4 linked regions of the Homo sapiens genome follow. The protein of the gene in region 1 purifies or fractionates together with the protein of each later gene. This does not show direct contact. Each region holds a gene or a part of one and is shown in the gene's direction. Other genes may lie near its edges.

The links.
Region 2: the proteins of ORC2 (region 1) and BRINP1 purify together in Homo sapiens (affinity purification with mass spectrometry; one large-scale study listed by BioGRID and IntAct). This does not show direct contact.
Region 3: the proteins of ORC2 (region 1) and OBI1 purify together in Homo sapiens (affinity purification with western blotting; one study listed by BioGRID). This does not show direct contact.
Region 4: the proteins of ORC2 (region 1) and IMMP2L purify together in Homo sapiens (co-immunoprecipitation; one large-scale study listed by IntAct). This does not show direct contact.

The regions. Positions count from the first base shown.
Region 1 is NC_000002.12:200,925,661-200,929,160, reverse strand, and holds part of ORC2 (origin recognition complex subunit 2), read left to right. Parts: intron 1-2,260; coding exon 2,261-2,393; intron 2,394-3,228; coding exon 3,229-3,325; intron 3,326-3,500. UniProt on the Homo sapiens protein: Component of the origin recognition complex (ORC) that binds origins of replication. DNA-binding is ATP-dependent. The specific DNA sequences that define origins of replication have not been identified yet.
Region 2 is NC_000009.12:119,366,636-119,370,592, reverse strand, and holds the start of BRINP1 (BMP/retinoic acid-inducible neural-specific protein 1 precursor), read left to right. Parts: upstream 1-1,157; 5' UTR 1,158-1,537; intron 1,538-3,957. UniProt on the Homo sapiens protein: Plays a role in neurogenesis and brain development. May suppress cell cycle progression in postmitotic neurons by inhibiting G1/S transition.
Region 3 is NC_000013.11:78,617,656-78,621,155, reverse strand, and holds part of OBI1 (ORC ubiquitin ligase 1), read left to right. Parts: intron 1-3,500. UniProt on the Homo sapiens protein: E3 ubiquitin ligase essential for DNA replication origin activation during S phase.
Region 4 is NC_000007.14:111,552,493-111,555,992, reverse strand, and holds part of IMMP2L (mitochondrial inner membrane protease subunit 2), read left to right. Parts: intron 1-3,500. UniProt on the Homo sapiens protein: Catalyzes the removal of transit peptides required for the targeting of proteins from the mitochondrial matrix, across the inner membrane, into the inter-membrane space. Known to process the nuclear encoded protein DIABLO.

The DNA.
Region 1 (3,500 bases):
TGACCAACATAGTGAAATCCTGTCTCTACTAAAAATACAAAGTTAGCCGGGCTTAGTGGTGCATGCCTGTAATCCCAGCTACTTGGGAGGGTGAGGCAGGAGAATTGCTTGAACGCGGGAGGCAGTGAGCCAAAATCGCACCACTGCACTCCAGCCTGGGTGACAGAGCAGGACTCCATCTCAAAATAAATAAATAAATGCTCATTCTCCTTGGAATGAGTGAATTAATGGTTTAGTATGACTTAACAAGGCCTTTGTTACTTGACCTCTTTTCAATTTGTATCAGTTTCAACTCTGCTTCAGCCTATAAAAGTTTTTAGGACTTTTTTTTTGTTGTTTTTTTTTTTGAGACAGAGTCTTGCTCTGTTGCCCAGGCTGAAGTGCAGTGGTGCAATCTCGGCTCACTGCAAGCTCTGCCTCCCGTGTTCACGCCATTCTCCTGCCTCAGCCTCCTGAGTAGCTGGGACTACAGGTGCCTGCCACCACGCCCAGCTAATTTTTTTGTATTTTTAGTAGAGACAGGATTTCACCGTGTTAGCCAAGATGGTCTCGATCTCCTGACCTCGTGATCCGCCCGCCTCGGCCTCCCAAAGTGCTGGGATTACAGGCGTGAGCCACTGCGCCTGGCCTTTTTAGGGCTTTTATTGGCAATGGTCTCCCTTGCCTCCAGTCATCTGTCATCTGAAAAGTAATAGAAGCTACAGTGAAGCTACTGAACAAATTAGAACTAGAAGCTTGGTATACAGATAATAAAATTGTGCCTTTACCTTGTATGGGTTTGGAATAAATATTTATTTATTTATTTAAGATGGAATCTTACTCTGTTGCCCAGGCTGGAATGTAGTGATGTGATCTCAGCTCTCTGCAACCTCCACCTCCCAGGTTCAAGCAATTCTCCTGCCTCAGCCTCCCAAGTAGCTGGGATTACAGGCACCTGCCACCATGCCCAGCCAATTTTTGTATTTTTAGTAGAGACAGGATTTCACCATGTTGGCCAGGCTGGTCTCGAATTCCTGGCCTCATGTGATCCACCTGCCTCGACCTCCCAAAGTGCTGGGATTACAGGCGTGAGCCATCATGCCCGGCCAATAATAATTTTTAAAAAGAATACTTTTTTTTTTTAGGAAGGAAGAGGAAGAACTGGGATGGCTGAATCACTAAACATTGATTCCTGGCCTTGCACGGTGGCTCATGCCTGTAATCCCAGCACTTTGAGAGGCTAAGGCAGGCACATCACCTGAGGTCAAGAGTTCAAGACCAACATGGTGAAACCCCGTCTCTACTAAAAATATAAAAATTAGCTGGGCATGGTGGCGGGCGCCTGTAATCCAGCTGCTCAGGAGGCTGAGGCAGGAGAATCGCTTGAACCCGGGAGGCGGAGGTTGCAGTGAGCTATGATGGTGCCACTACACTCCAGCCTGGGCGACAGAGCGAAAAAAAAAATTATTATTAATTAGTTAATTTTTTTTTACAGACACTGTCTTGCTCTGTTGCCCTGGTTGGAGTGCAGTGGCGGGATCTCGGCTCACTGCAAGCTCCGCCTTCCGTGTTCACGCCATTCTCCTGCCTCAGCCTCCCAAGTAGCTGGGACTACAGGCACCCGCCACTGCACCCAGCTAATTTTTTTTTTTTTTGTATTTTTAGTAGAGATGGGGTTTCACTGTGGTCTCGATCTCCTGACCTCGTGATCCGCCCACCTCGGCCTCCCAAAGTGCTGGGATTACAGGCGTGAGCCACCGCACCTGACCTAATTTTTTTTTTAAATAAAAATATTTTTGGCTAGACATGGTGGCTCACACCTGTAGTCCCAGCAATTTTGGGGGCCAAGGTGGGTGGATTACTTGAGCCCAGTTGTTCAAGACCAGCCTGGGCAACATGGCAAAAGCTCATCTCTAGTAAAAATATAAAAATTAGCCAGGTATGGTGGTGCACAGCTGTAGCCCCAGCTTCTTGGGAGACTGACGCTGAAGAGTTGCTTGAACCTGGGAGGCTGAGGTTGCAGTGAGCCAAGAGTGCCACTGGACTCCAGTCTGGGTGACAGAGTGACTCTGTCTCAAAAAAAAAAAGATACATATATATACATACATGAAAAACTTTTTTGCGTTTGCCTTCCCAAAATTCGGGGATTACAGGCTTGAGCCAGTGCGCCTACCCCTTTCCTGTATTTTTTATAAACTGAATTTAAGGAAACTGGTTGATAATAAAATTGGCAATAAGAGGTATTGAAGTTTAATTTCATGAATACTGTCTTTCCTAACAGCCTTGGGTTCAACATTGTGCTTTATGGTTTGGGTTCTAAGAGAGATTTACTAGAAAGGTTTCGAACCACTATGCTGCAAGATTCCATTCACGTTGTCATCAATGGCTTCTTTCCTGGAATCAGTGTGAAATCAGTAAGTTTCAAAAATGTTAAAGGGAAAAACATTATATCCTCTGCCAATTCAAGCCCCCACATAAATGAGGATGGAGTATTAAAGAATTTTTGTTTTAGCCTTCACGGTAGTAGGATTGTATAGTGCTTAATACCATGTGTTTGGACTCAAGAATCTAGCTTTGAAACCATCTTCGAATGTCCTACATTGTAACTGACATGTATTAAAACTTAGGAAAATGTTAGCTTTGTTTACTATACTGAGTATCAGTGGTACTTCTGAAGGAGGGAATTATGGGGTCTTCAGTTTTGTTATAAACTATGAAAATGCTTTATTAGGCAAAAACTACATGCTGTGAAAATGCTTTAAAATGCAACAGGATGTGATGTGAAGACTGTAGTTTAACAATACATTTATCATAGATCATTTTTATTTCAAATGCTTAATATCTCTTCATCATTTGAACATGAAATCTTTTGGGTGCTGGATATTGAGCCATATAGTATTCCTTTTTTAAAGTGTCTGTAGTGTTTGTGTCCTGTTTCCTTTGATAGAACTGTAGTTTTCTAATGTTTCTCATGTTCTTGGGAGCTTTTTCATTTGTTTTTGCTGCCCTCTTATATTACCTATTACCTGTACATCTTTGCTATTCTTTTCTGTTTTCTTTTAGCCACAACTTAGGCAAAAAACAATGAATTAGATATACTCAAGTACCAGTAGAATTTTTAAAAGTTATTTTTTAAACTTTTGGGAAATCCAAATTCATTTTTAATTTATAAAAAAAGGTTTGATTTTCTAGTTGTATATGACAATAAATTGTAATTAATGTGGTACCTCTTCCACATTCATGATATAGGTCCTGAATTCTATAACAGAAGAAGTCCTCGATCATATGGGTACTTTCCGCAGTATACTGGATCAGCTAGACTGGATAGTAAACAAATTTAAAGAAGGTAACATGAAGTAGATGCTCGGTAGTTTTAGAGTAAAGTTAAGCATATACTTCTACTTATTCATGTATTTATATACATACAATATTATTATTATTATTTTTGAGACAGTCTCTCTGTTGCCCAGCCTGGAGTGCAGTGGTGCGATCATGGCTCACTGCAGCCTTGACCTTCTGGG
Region 2 (3,957 bases), on another chromosome or scaffold:
TCATGAGCAGTCTAAGTGCCTTTGCATATATTAACTCATTACAATTCCACATCAACCCTATTAGATGGGTAGATATATTATTATTCTATTAAACAGACAAGGAATTGAGGCTTAAGGGGTAAGTGATTTCACCAAGACCAGACAGCTACAGGACTCCAACCTCTCTGGAGCCTGCACTTCTACTGAATCTGGCTCTTTTACATATTCCAACACCTTTTCCTATGACTTCCTGCCCCTCCATCTGGTAGCCTTAATGCTTTCTATTCTTGCCTAATCTTCAGGGGACTAGGGATCTGCATTGCTGATTTGGTTTAAATCAGAAGGGAAGCAAAGTAAACAAACATACCAAATGTGCGCTGTGTGGGAATTATCATACGAGGGCTTTATTTTCTGCTTCAGGAAGAGGCCCTATGTTAGCAGCCCCAGCCTGCATTCAGGCTGATTGCAGAGTATTTTGCTTTTTATTTTCATGTCTTAGTCCCTGTACCCTCGCCCCTTCCCCGCCTCTGGTGGTCTCCAGAGAACTTCGTGTCCCCTCAGCTTCTCCCTCCTACATCCTGCCTACGTAGAGAAGCTCTTGCTTCATTCTGGGAGGTTACGTGGGCTCTCGCCTACACACCGAGAGAAACAAACAGTGTCAAACACTCACAGAGAGACGCGCAGACACAAACGGACCCACACGGGCAACTCCCGAGACAAAACCCACACTCGATGGATCCACGCGGCCGTGGAAACACCTGCCGCCCCAGAAACACTCAGGTACTCGCGACACACACAGTACAGTCACGCTTAAGGGCACCAGGATTCCGGGTTTGCGCGTATGCGCGGTCCCTTTGGATGCTCGTGCGCATAGACACAACACCCTACACGCCCCAGACCCACGAAACTCCCTACGGCTCAGCCCCAGCCCACCCGGGCCGCCCTTCCCTCGAGGCGGCCTCCCGTCTCTCCTCCTCTCGCTTCTCCTCCTCCTCCGCCTAAAGATGTACAAAACACTCCTCGGAAGCAACCCCGGCGTTCAGCTCCTCCCTCCCCGCCCCCCGGCCGCCGCTCCCCCATTCATTTTCGGCCGTCGCCGGCTAAGTCCCTCCCCCGGCGTAGCCCGGCCTCCGCCGCTCCCCGCCCGGAGACCGCGGCGCACTTGGACTTCCCTCTCCATTCGCCAGCCGCCTCGCTCCCGGACCCCACGGCTGCAAACTGATCTGGCGCGCGGGGAGGAGGAGAGCGCAGGCGAGCGAACCCGCGAGAGAGGGAGAGAGCGAGCGAGCAACAGCGAGAGCGAGAGCGAGAGAGCCGGGAGGCAGAGGGAGTAGTGACCGCCTTCCGGAGCCGGGATTCATGCCTGTCCTCGGGACCAGCGAAGGGGACTTTACGGCTGAGTATGAGCCAGGCTGCTAGGAGCCAGGTACCCCCACGCCTGCAGTCCCCGCGCCGTGCCCGGAATGCGAGCTGCACGCAGGGCTCTCCCAAGTTCCCACCGAGCCGAATAAAAAGCGTCCTCCCGCAGCTCTCCGCCAAAGACGGACATTGACTCCAGGTAAGGCGGCGCCGGGTGCAGCGCCCCGCAGCCCCGCTGCCCTTGGACCCGGCCCCGGGCCGCATTCGGGGCGTCCCCGCGCTCCTCTGCCCCTCCCCCTACCGGCACCCTTGTCCGCTCTTCACCTGGCCGCCCCGCCGCCTCCAAGTCTTCTCCAGTTCTAGGGAGGGGGTTCCTGTGCCTGGGGCTCAAAGGGCTAATTGCGGGTTTGAGTGAGTGGCGTGTGTGTCCCCGCGCGCTCCCGACGTGTGCACCATGGTGGGAACTTGATGTGGTGCTAGTGTGTTTGCGTGTGCGGCGTCGTTTGCGTTTGATGCGTGTGTTCGTGGTGTGTGTGTGTGTCCGTGTGTGTAAGGGAGGGGTGAAGAGAGAGAGGTCCTATAACCTACTTACGGCGCGATGTGTGTGTGCATGTTTGTACGTATGTGTTTGTATGTGTGCCCTCGTGTGTCTTTTTAATTAGGTCTCTCCAGCTTACACGGAATGGGACCCTTACTATAGGATCACGTAGTCACCGGGAAACCCGCTGTGGACTTCCTCTTGGGGCTCTGGGCTTGGGGTTTGGGGAGGATTATGGGGCTGTAGATGGCACCTTATTTAGCCCAATGTTGGTACGCTTGAAGGAAAATTCCTCCAAACGGTGGAATCCTGCTACACTGGGACCCACAGCTTAATATGAAAGAGACATGGCCAACCCCCGAGGCAAATGAGACGCTGTCACTTTAAATTCTACACTGGGCAGACTCCAAGATTCTGATGGGAATTTGGAGACACTGGATAGTGGGTGACAGAGAAAGGGGGAAGTCAGCGGTGGGCTCCTTATCTGGGGCTTGGAAAGTCTGGGATAGGGATTTACCCTGCATCCCCGTTTGCAATCAACAGAGCCCCTCCGGCTTCTGTTGGTTTTGGGGAGGATCTGGCAAGTTTGCATGGATCCCCCTCAGGGGAAAGGAGAAAGCGTCCTCGGGGACTTGCTCATCCATCACAGTTGCAAAGGGTCTCAGAGGAAATTTCATCTGGGGCGGCTGTGGATGATATGGAAGGAGATGGATGGGGCACTTTCCTAAGACAGATTCGTCTTTCTTTCCCCATTTCAGGCGGGGAAGCCCCCAGAGAGTCTCTCCCTAAATATGCCTCTCCATGGCTCCCCTGGAGTTAGGGGGATATTGAGAGAAGGCAGAGAGGTGGAGAGGGAGAGAGAGAGAGCAAGAGCGAGAGAGAGGGAGACAGAGAGAGAGAGTGTTTCAGTACTGAGGGAGATCTACAATTTGAAAAGGGGCTGTGAGTGTGGAACCCATGACAGAATGTGGCAGTAATTGACTTAAACTGCTGTCGGTTTGCACCTCGCGTCTCTCACTTGGCTCCAAAATACTGCCAAGGGCAGGGGGGCGGTGGAGGAATCTCAGCCAGGAAGGTAGTTTGGGTCAAGGCCCTCTTTCTTCTTTCCTCCATCTCCTGGGAGGCTCTTTAGGTAGGTCCCTTGGCCACCCTGGCTTGGTACTGTTGGGCTTGGGCTCTGGGGCCAGCCATTGATTTGATTCCCAGCTGCCTCTTAAAGGCTTGCCCTACTCAGCAAAAATGCTGAGTTTTACTGCTGTTAGCATGGCTTCCAGACTCGGCAGCTGTTACTTTCTCAAGGTAAGCGGCAGCCGTTCTGCTCTCAGGCAGGGAGGCTAGGAGAAGACAAGGGCTGTGACGCTGGGACACAGCCTCTTGTCTAGCTCAGCACGGAGGGGCCGCTGAAAAGCCCTCTTAGGGGAAAAAAGTAGAAATATATTTGGCCTAAAAAATGTACACATATATTCTAGGAAGATATATATATATATATATATATCAATCACACACACACACACACACACACATGTGTTCATATTCTGGGGAGAGATAAAAGCAAACATGTATTTGTAGGAACCTGCCCTAGTGGGTGGGTTCTACCTGCAGGCACTTGCAGACATACCATTCTCTGTCCAGAGGCTGATACCTCAGGCTGAAGCCTTCACATAGCCACAGAGAATCTCCTTCAGGAAACTCATGTCAGGGCAGAGCTCCCTGGATTATCTTGGGTAGGGGGTACTAGGGCCAAGGAGGAGACCCATTTTTGGGAACTGCCTCATTTTCTCTCTTTCCTAATTCACAGACGATCGAAACTGGAAGGAATATTAAAGAGCAGAAAGGCAGGACTCTGTGGCCTAAAGAGGGAATGAGAATTCCCCAACATTCAGTAGTGGGTTAGTGGCATGCCCAGGACTAGAATCTAGGCTTATCAATCAGCTAGATCAATACCCTTTCCACTCCTCCCAGCAATATACACTCTAGGACTGTATATTGCTCCCACCCCTATCTTGCCAACCTGCCACCATGACCCCTACCAAGACAATCGCTTGTCTTCCCTCATCAAACTTCACATTTTCAGAGATGCA
Region 3 (3,500 bases), on another chromosome or scaffold:
AGGCCACACCACAAAAGCTGGTCCAGGTCCAAAGATAGCTTTCGCTTTGTTTCATTACCTCAGCTACCAAGTGAGGGAAACATATAAAGTCAAAGTTTGATGAGGCAAGTGGACTGACTTCCCCAATGTCCCCCTTGTTCCTCCTCAAGAAGGCATTTCTGAATTTTGGCAGTCTTGGCCACCCACTGGGCTTGCTGCATTTACCCATTTTGTTGGAATTGCCATTGAGAACCAGAAAGGCAAAGTGAATTGCTCAAGGATAGTAGCGTAGCACTAGAGCTTATTAGTTTTTTGGTACTCAGGTGTGGTATTCTTTTACCACATTTGTTTTCTTCAAACACGTCCTGTTTTTCTGTGTGATAGACTATGAGAAAATATGGTCTTAGGAACTTTTTGTTGTTAGAGATGCTCTTTAGTTTAGTTATACCACCTCAAAGGTCATACCAATAGGACTTCCATTTCTCTTTTACTAGGGACAGAAATGATCTTGTATCTCTTAGAGCTATTTGGACAAGGGGAACTGGCATCCTTTTCTCTCTCATCCAGAATGTATGTATCAGTTAATATTGCAAGCTGAAAAATCCTTTAAGCTTCTGTTAGATTCTGGCAGAATACAGTTCCGATATCAATTGTAGCTCCCAAACTGCTCTGCAGTGTTTTTTCTGGCACAATGAAGCCTTTGGCCATCACTGCTACTTTGAAAATCAAAGCCTTTTGGTCTCTAATGGAATGTTTATAAAAATACTCCATTTTGAAATTTACTCAAGAAAAGGAGGAAGTATGGTAAATGATATTAGAAATCCCTCCGGCTTGCCTTGGCATAGCTTCATTTAGTGTTGTATACTCCAAATATCTAGAATTAGTGTGAATACAAAAGTATTAAAACCCAAAGATAAATAAGCTCATGTCCTTCTTCTATGGAAGTATAGCATCAGATACTTATCCCTAATTGTTATTTCTCTATAATAAGGTAAATTGCCCTTTGCCAAATTTAATATAGTTATCTTGGATAAGCTGAAAATTTCCTGACACATGTCAAAAGTCTCATCTATTTGCAGTCTTACTAAGGTGAAGTTTTTTGGGGTGGAGCAGTATAGAATGTCAAGCCTGTAGCAAAAAAGGCTGTACTGTACATATGTCAGTCTCTGTTGCTTTCCTGGGTGTCAGTGAAATAAAGTAAACAGTCAAATGTAGTAAACAAAACATGTTTACTTTAGTAATACAGTGACTGTCATAATACTTAACATGTAAAAAGAAGGCCAAGGACCTTTAGCTTATCCTGTGGTGTCAACCCTGTCTCAATGTAAGGCACTAGTGTATCTTAAAGTAAGAGAATGACTTTTATTCAAGAAATACACAACAGGCAAGTGCCGTATACCAGGAATTGTTCTAGGAATCTGGCAGTGAATATAAGACAAACTACCTGCTCTCCTTGAGCTTCTATTCTAACGTGGGAGAAAGAAAGCAAATAAATTACATGAATTGATTAATTGATCAGTTGCATGGCTTTTAGTATACATTTCTGTCAGTCTGCCAACCAGCACAGGTCCCTTATTAGCATGGGAGAAGGGCCTGATCACTGAAAGTATTATAGATTTATAGAGTATTGAAAGGAAACTTAAGGAAATTGGGGGCAGTGGCCTTTTAGAAAACAGCCTAACTCCATCAGTGACTTCTGCTTGCTTGTGCCTCTCATATGTGATCTGCTACTGGCCTTTGTTACTTCTCTCTGAAATAACACAAAAATTATGTTTAGGGCTCTCATTGACTTCAACTCCAAACCATATGTTACTTCTTTTAAAAACATAATTTCTAAAAAAAAAAAATATATAGAGAGAGAGAGGCAAATACAGTATCTTAAGATGATACTATATTTGAAATTCCAAGCTAAAACCCTGGAACAAGAAGCTGGTAATATTTTGGGAAGCATTCTTTATTTTTGAGTAGTCTTTCTGTGTGTAGGCCTCTAAGTTCCCAAAGATATCCTTTGGTAGCAACTGACTTACTATGTAGTAGCATTATTTGATTTTAAGTCATTTGATTTTTTTATCTGAGGAGATACCTTTATTATAAAAAATTTTACTTGAAGAAATTTATCTTGATAAGCAAATGTAAGGCTGTCACTTTTGCTTATTGGCATTAAATAAACATACTACAGTTTTTCCATTTAAAAATGTGGGTTATTTGATTATGCCAGAGTAGTTACAATCAAGAACTAACAAACATTTGTACTTAATGTACTGAAAGGTCTTTGCCCACTTTTTAAAAGTTCTCTTGCAGAACTACAACTCTGTGAAGTACTACATTTATAAGCCAAAACATTTTTAACAAAGAAGAAAAATTCCCATCATTCATTTAACCAAATACAGTAGTAAACTTTGTCTTTAAAATGGGGAGGCTTGTTATTATAGTTGCTTTTGTTTTTGTTATACCTGTGGTTTTTGCTGTGTTTTTTTAGAAGTTGAAGGGAGCGTGCTCTCTCTGGGGGTTCAGTTAATTGCAGTGAGTAAATCAATATTCAGCAATCATGTCTTTTAAAGCCCTTTCTAATCTTGAGATTTTATGATTCTATATTTACCTTTGCCTCTGCTTTTTCCTTCAGTGATAAGAGTGCAGGGATTATGTAGGGGTTGAGATGGGGAATGAATTGGGCTAGTGGTTTAGGAGGTGATGGGCATTAAGTGGGAGTTGAAAACATGTTGTGGTTGATTCTAAGAGGGGCAATTGCTATTGGCTTCTGCTTTTTTTGTAGTTTTTTTTTTCAATACTAAATACATGTTCTTAATTGTAATTATTTTTCAAATTAGGGGAAAAAAGGAAGAAAAAGATAAACCCAAAGATAAAAATAATTTTTGAAAGTCACCTTCTCATAGCTTCCTCCAAACAGACAATCCCTTAATTCTTAGAAATGGGCCAATATATAAATCATCAAAAAGATGATTAAGAATAGGCTTTGAAAAGAATTTTGGAGGAGATAAGGTATTTTTCACGGGATTATGTTATTTATTGGCTCATAAGTTTCCTGAAAGATAGAATTTATTTTTGGTGATAAGATTGAATTTAAGGTAGATATTTTATGTCCCTTGGAGCTAGACAGTCTTTTTTATCTTTTGTGTTCCCAGCCCCAAATATACCACCTAACCTATACTAGGTACTCAAAAATTGTTTCCTGAGCTTAACACAGTACTCATTCTTGGTGGAAATAACAGCAAGATAATCCCGGTGTAAAAGGAGTAGACTTTTTGTGAATAAGGGAATTCTTTTTCAGTCACTCTCCAAAATGTTCTCTTTCAGAAAGTGTACAAAAAAATTTTTTTTTTTGCCTAGTATATTGGAATCACAAGCACTGACTTCATATTTCAAAGTTGAAAGAAATGAGATAGATGTCCCACACAGCTGTAAAATGCCAAAAATAAGTAGTGCTGACATAAATTAAAGGCCAGTGCTCTGAAAAGCCACAGAAAAGCTTCAGATCAAGGGTGGCTATAATTGAAAGGGCC
Region 4 (3,500 bases), on another chromosome or scaffold:
TTGGTACAAAATAGAAGTAATGGTAGTTCTATTTTTAATTTCTTTAGGAACCTCCCTACTTTTTCCATAATGGTTGTACCAATAGTATACAAGGGTTCTCTTTTCTCCCACCCTCGCCAACACTTATCTCTTGTTTTATTTGGTAGTAGCCATCTTGATGGGTGTGAATATATGGAAACAACCTAACTGTCCAACAAAAGACAACAGAAAATCAAACTGCAGTACATATATAGAATGGAATATTATTCAGCCTTAAAAAAGAAATAGATTCTGCTTTTTGCCATAAGATAGGTAAACCTAGGGGACATTATGCTAAGTGAAGTAAGCCAAATGCAGAAAGAAAAATATTGTATTATCTCACATGTGGAATCTTAAAAAAAAGTCAAATACATAGTGAAATCATATCACTGCTTCAGATTTTATTTTTTGAGAGAGAAACAACATGTCTGTATGCTGTGAGTTAGAAACACCATAGAAAGGGAGATGTTGAAAATACAGTTGCCTGATTCCTTGCTTGTCATATTTTTTTTTTTGTGAATGAAGATTAGGTTGTCGCTTTGTTTGCCTACTCCTTCCCGGCTTGCAAAATTCATATCTGACCCCAACTGTCAGATATGAATTTTAAATGTCCTTTCTACTCTATTCTTTCCTGCCCCACAGTTCACTGCTGTCTTGCTCTCACTACGTCTGGCCCTTTTGCATACATTATTCTCTAACCTAATCCAGTTGTGCGTAAAAACTCCATTTTCCTTTATTAAAAGTTGAAAAATTTCACAGGAGTGTCTGCTAGGAGAATGGAGGAAATAATGATAACAAACATAAAAATCATTCAGCATAGCCAACATGTATTAATATCTGCTATGGTAAAGGCCCTGGATACAAAGATATATATGGCAGGAAGGATGAGTAACATAGGGATCTGATCTTAATGCATTTATGCCTAGTGCTCCATTATTGGAGCGCTAAGCTAGTGGGAGTTATTTATATCCTACTTCTCAAGGTCATCGCCAAGGCCTGATTTTTCACAAAAAAAATTTGCAACCTCCAGCATAAATGGGTTAAGGACCCCTCAGGGCAGTGAGAAAAATGGATATATAAATAAAGCAGCACCAGTACTTTGGGAGGCTGAGGTGGGTGGATCACCAGAGGTCAGGAGTTCGAGACTAGCCTGGCCAATATGGCAAAACCCCGTCTCTACTAAAAATACAAAAATTAGTCAGGCATGCTGGCATGTACCTGTAATCCCAGAGGCTGAGGCAGGAGAATCACTTGAACCCAGGAGGTGGAGGTTGCAGTGAGCCGAGAATGTGGTACTGCACTCCAGCCTGGGTGACAGAGCAAGACTCCATCTCAAATAATAATAATAATAATAATAAAATAAAAATAAAGCAATGCTTTGAGGGACAATATGTGCTATGATAGAGTTCAAGGTAAGATAGATGCAAAAAATGGACTTCATTATTTTTGTGATCCTGAAGGTCTCACAAAAGGTGATACCTGAGCTATAGCTTGAGATATGGCATGGTGAGGTTCGGGGAGTAAGATTAGGGGAATAAAATATTCCTTAATGGCCCCACGATAGCAGCAGAAGGGGCTTGGGTTTCTCATCTTCCCTTTCTTCTTGTTCTGCGTGATTTTATTGCAAGATATTTTTGTGTTTGAGGGAGTTCTTAGGGGGTTAATATGTTTCAGTTTACATATAGACGTATCAGCATTTTCTCCCTTGTGATATAAACTTTCTGTGAATTTACCAACACTGGTTTATTATATATTAGACAGCTAACACAAACCAGTGCAATTATATCAAGTATCTGGGGGATGAGGTCCAGGCAGTGATATTTTCAAAGCATCTTAGGTGTCCTCATGGCAGTCAGGGTGGAGAACCACTGGGCTAAAACATGGCTTAGAAGAAAAGGCTGGGATTTGGAGCTAAAAAATTGTAGATTAGATTCTTGAATTCCTTTTAATAGTTACGTATCCTTAGTTAAGTTACTGAGACTTCTCTAAGGCCATCATTGAAAAATAGGATGGTAGTATACCCGTCCTGCCTACCTGTTTTGCAAAGTTATATGGCTCAAAAGAGGAGATTTGTGTGAAGGAACATTATATGCAGATGTGATTATAACAATAAAATGTTCTCTTGACCTTCTCCAGAAGTGGACAGGCTTAAGAGCTGGCTACCTTGTCCTGTAAGATAGGAACTACTTTATGGATTTTGATTTAATATTTTACCATCACGAGCATTTTGATGATATATTTTACTACATTTGTGTAATGCTACAAGGTTGAAGACCTAAAGCCAAAATGCAGAACCTTAAAGAAATAGCAGTTGAGCATTTCCTGTCTGATATATTCTAATTGTTTAAAATTACACAGATGCTTATTGTAATTAAGATTTAAGTGTGTAGTCTCAGTGTCAGTAATATTTTAGTATTAAAATTCTCTAAATGTGTTAAGTGTTTATTTTCATGATATGCACATTAAAAATAGCCATTTTCCAGAAAATAGTAACAACTCCACAGAGCACAATGGAGCACCACAAATGGACTTATTTTGGAGATTCCCATTATATTCGTTAAGAATGCAGGGACATATACTGTGTCTCTGTACTGTAGGAAGCTTGACATACTAGTATCAGTCATATAATCGTGTAGGAATGATCATCCTTACAGTATTATACCTTATTTTAGTTGAGAAGAAAGTGGTATTGTTTAATGACAAATTGAACCTAAAGCCTAAAGACTGGGTTCCAGATCTGTTTTCTCTACTCATTCCTATATGATAATTGGTAAATTAACCTCTCTGAGCCTCATATGTAAAATTGGGTTCTCTGTTGTTTTGTAACATGAAAACCTTAGTGGCTGAAAACAACAATGATTGTTTGTTATCTCATGGTTGCTGTGGGTCAGCAATTTGAGGGTCCTTGCTTGGTTCTCTGGAGGTTGCTGTCAGATATCAGCAGGAGTGGAAGTTTTATAGGAGCATCACTGGAGCTAAAAGATTCACTTCCAAGGTGGCTTACTCACTTGGCTGGCCAGTTGGTGTTGGCAGGTTGGTTCCTTTCCACAATGGGCTTGCCGTGGGACTATTCTCATGAGATGGCAGATGACTTTCCCGAGATTCAAGCTGCCAAAGTAGAAACTGCAGTGCCCTTTATGACTTACCTGTGGAAGTCATACACCATCATTTCAGATGTATTCAATTGGTTCTACAGACCAGCCCTGATTCAGTATGGGAGTGGATTACACAAGGACATGAGGCAAGGATCATTGTGGACTGTCTTGTGAGGGTAGGCTCTCTGAGAGGATAACAGTCTCTACCTGACATAGGATTGCTTTGAGTTTCATTGTAAGCATTTATGTGAGAGTCCTTTGTAAACCATTAAAGCAGCATATAAATGTGTTATAGAAGTGATGGTGGCTCACACCTGTAATCCCAGCACTTTGGGAGGCCGAGGCAGGTGGATCACTTGAGGTCAGGAGTTTGAGAACAGCCTGGCC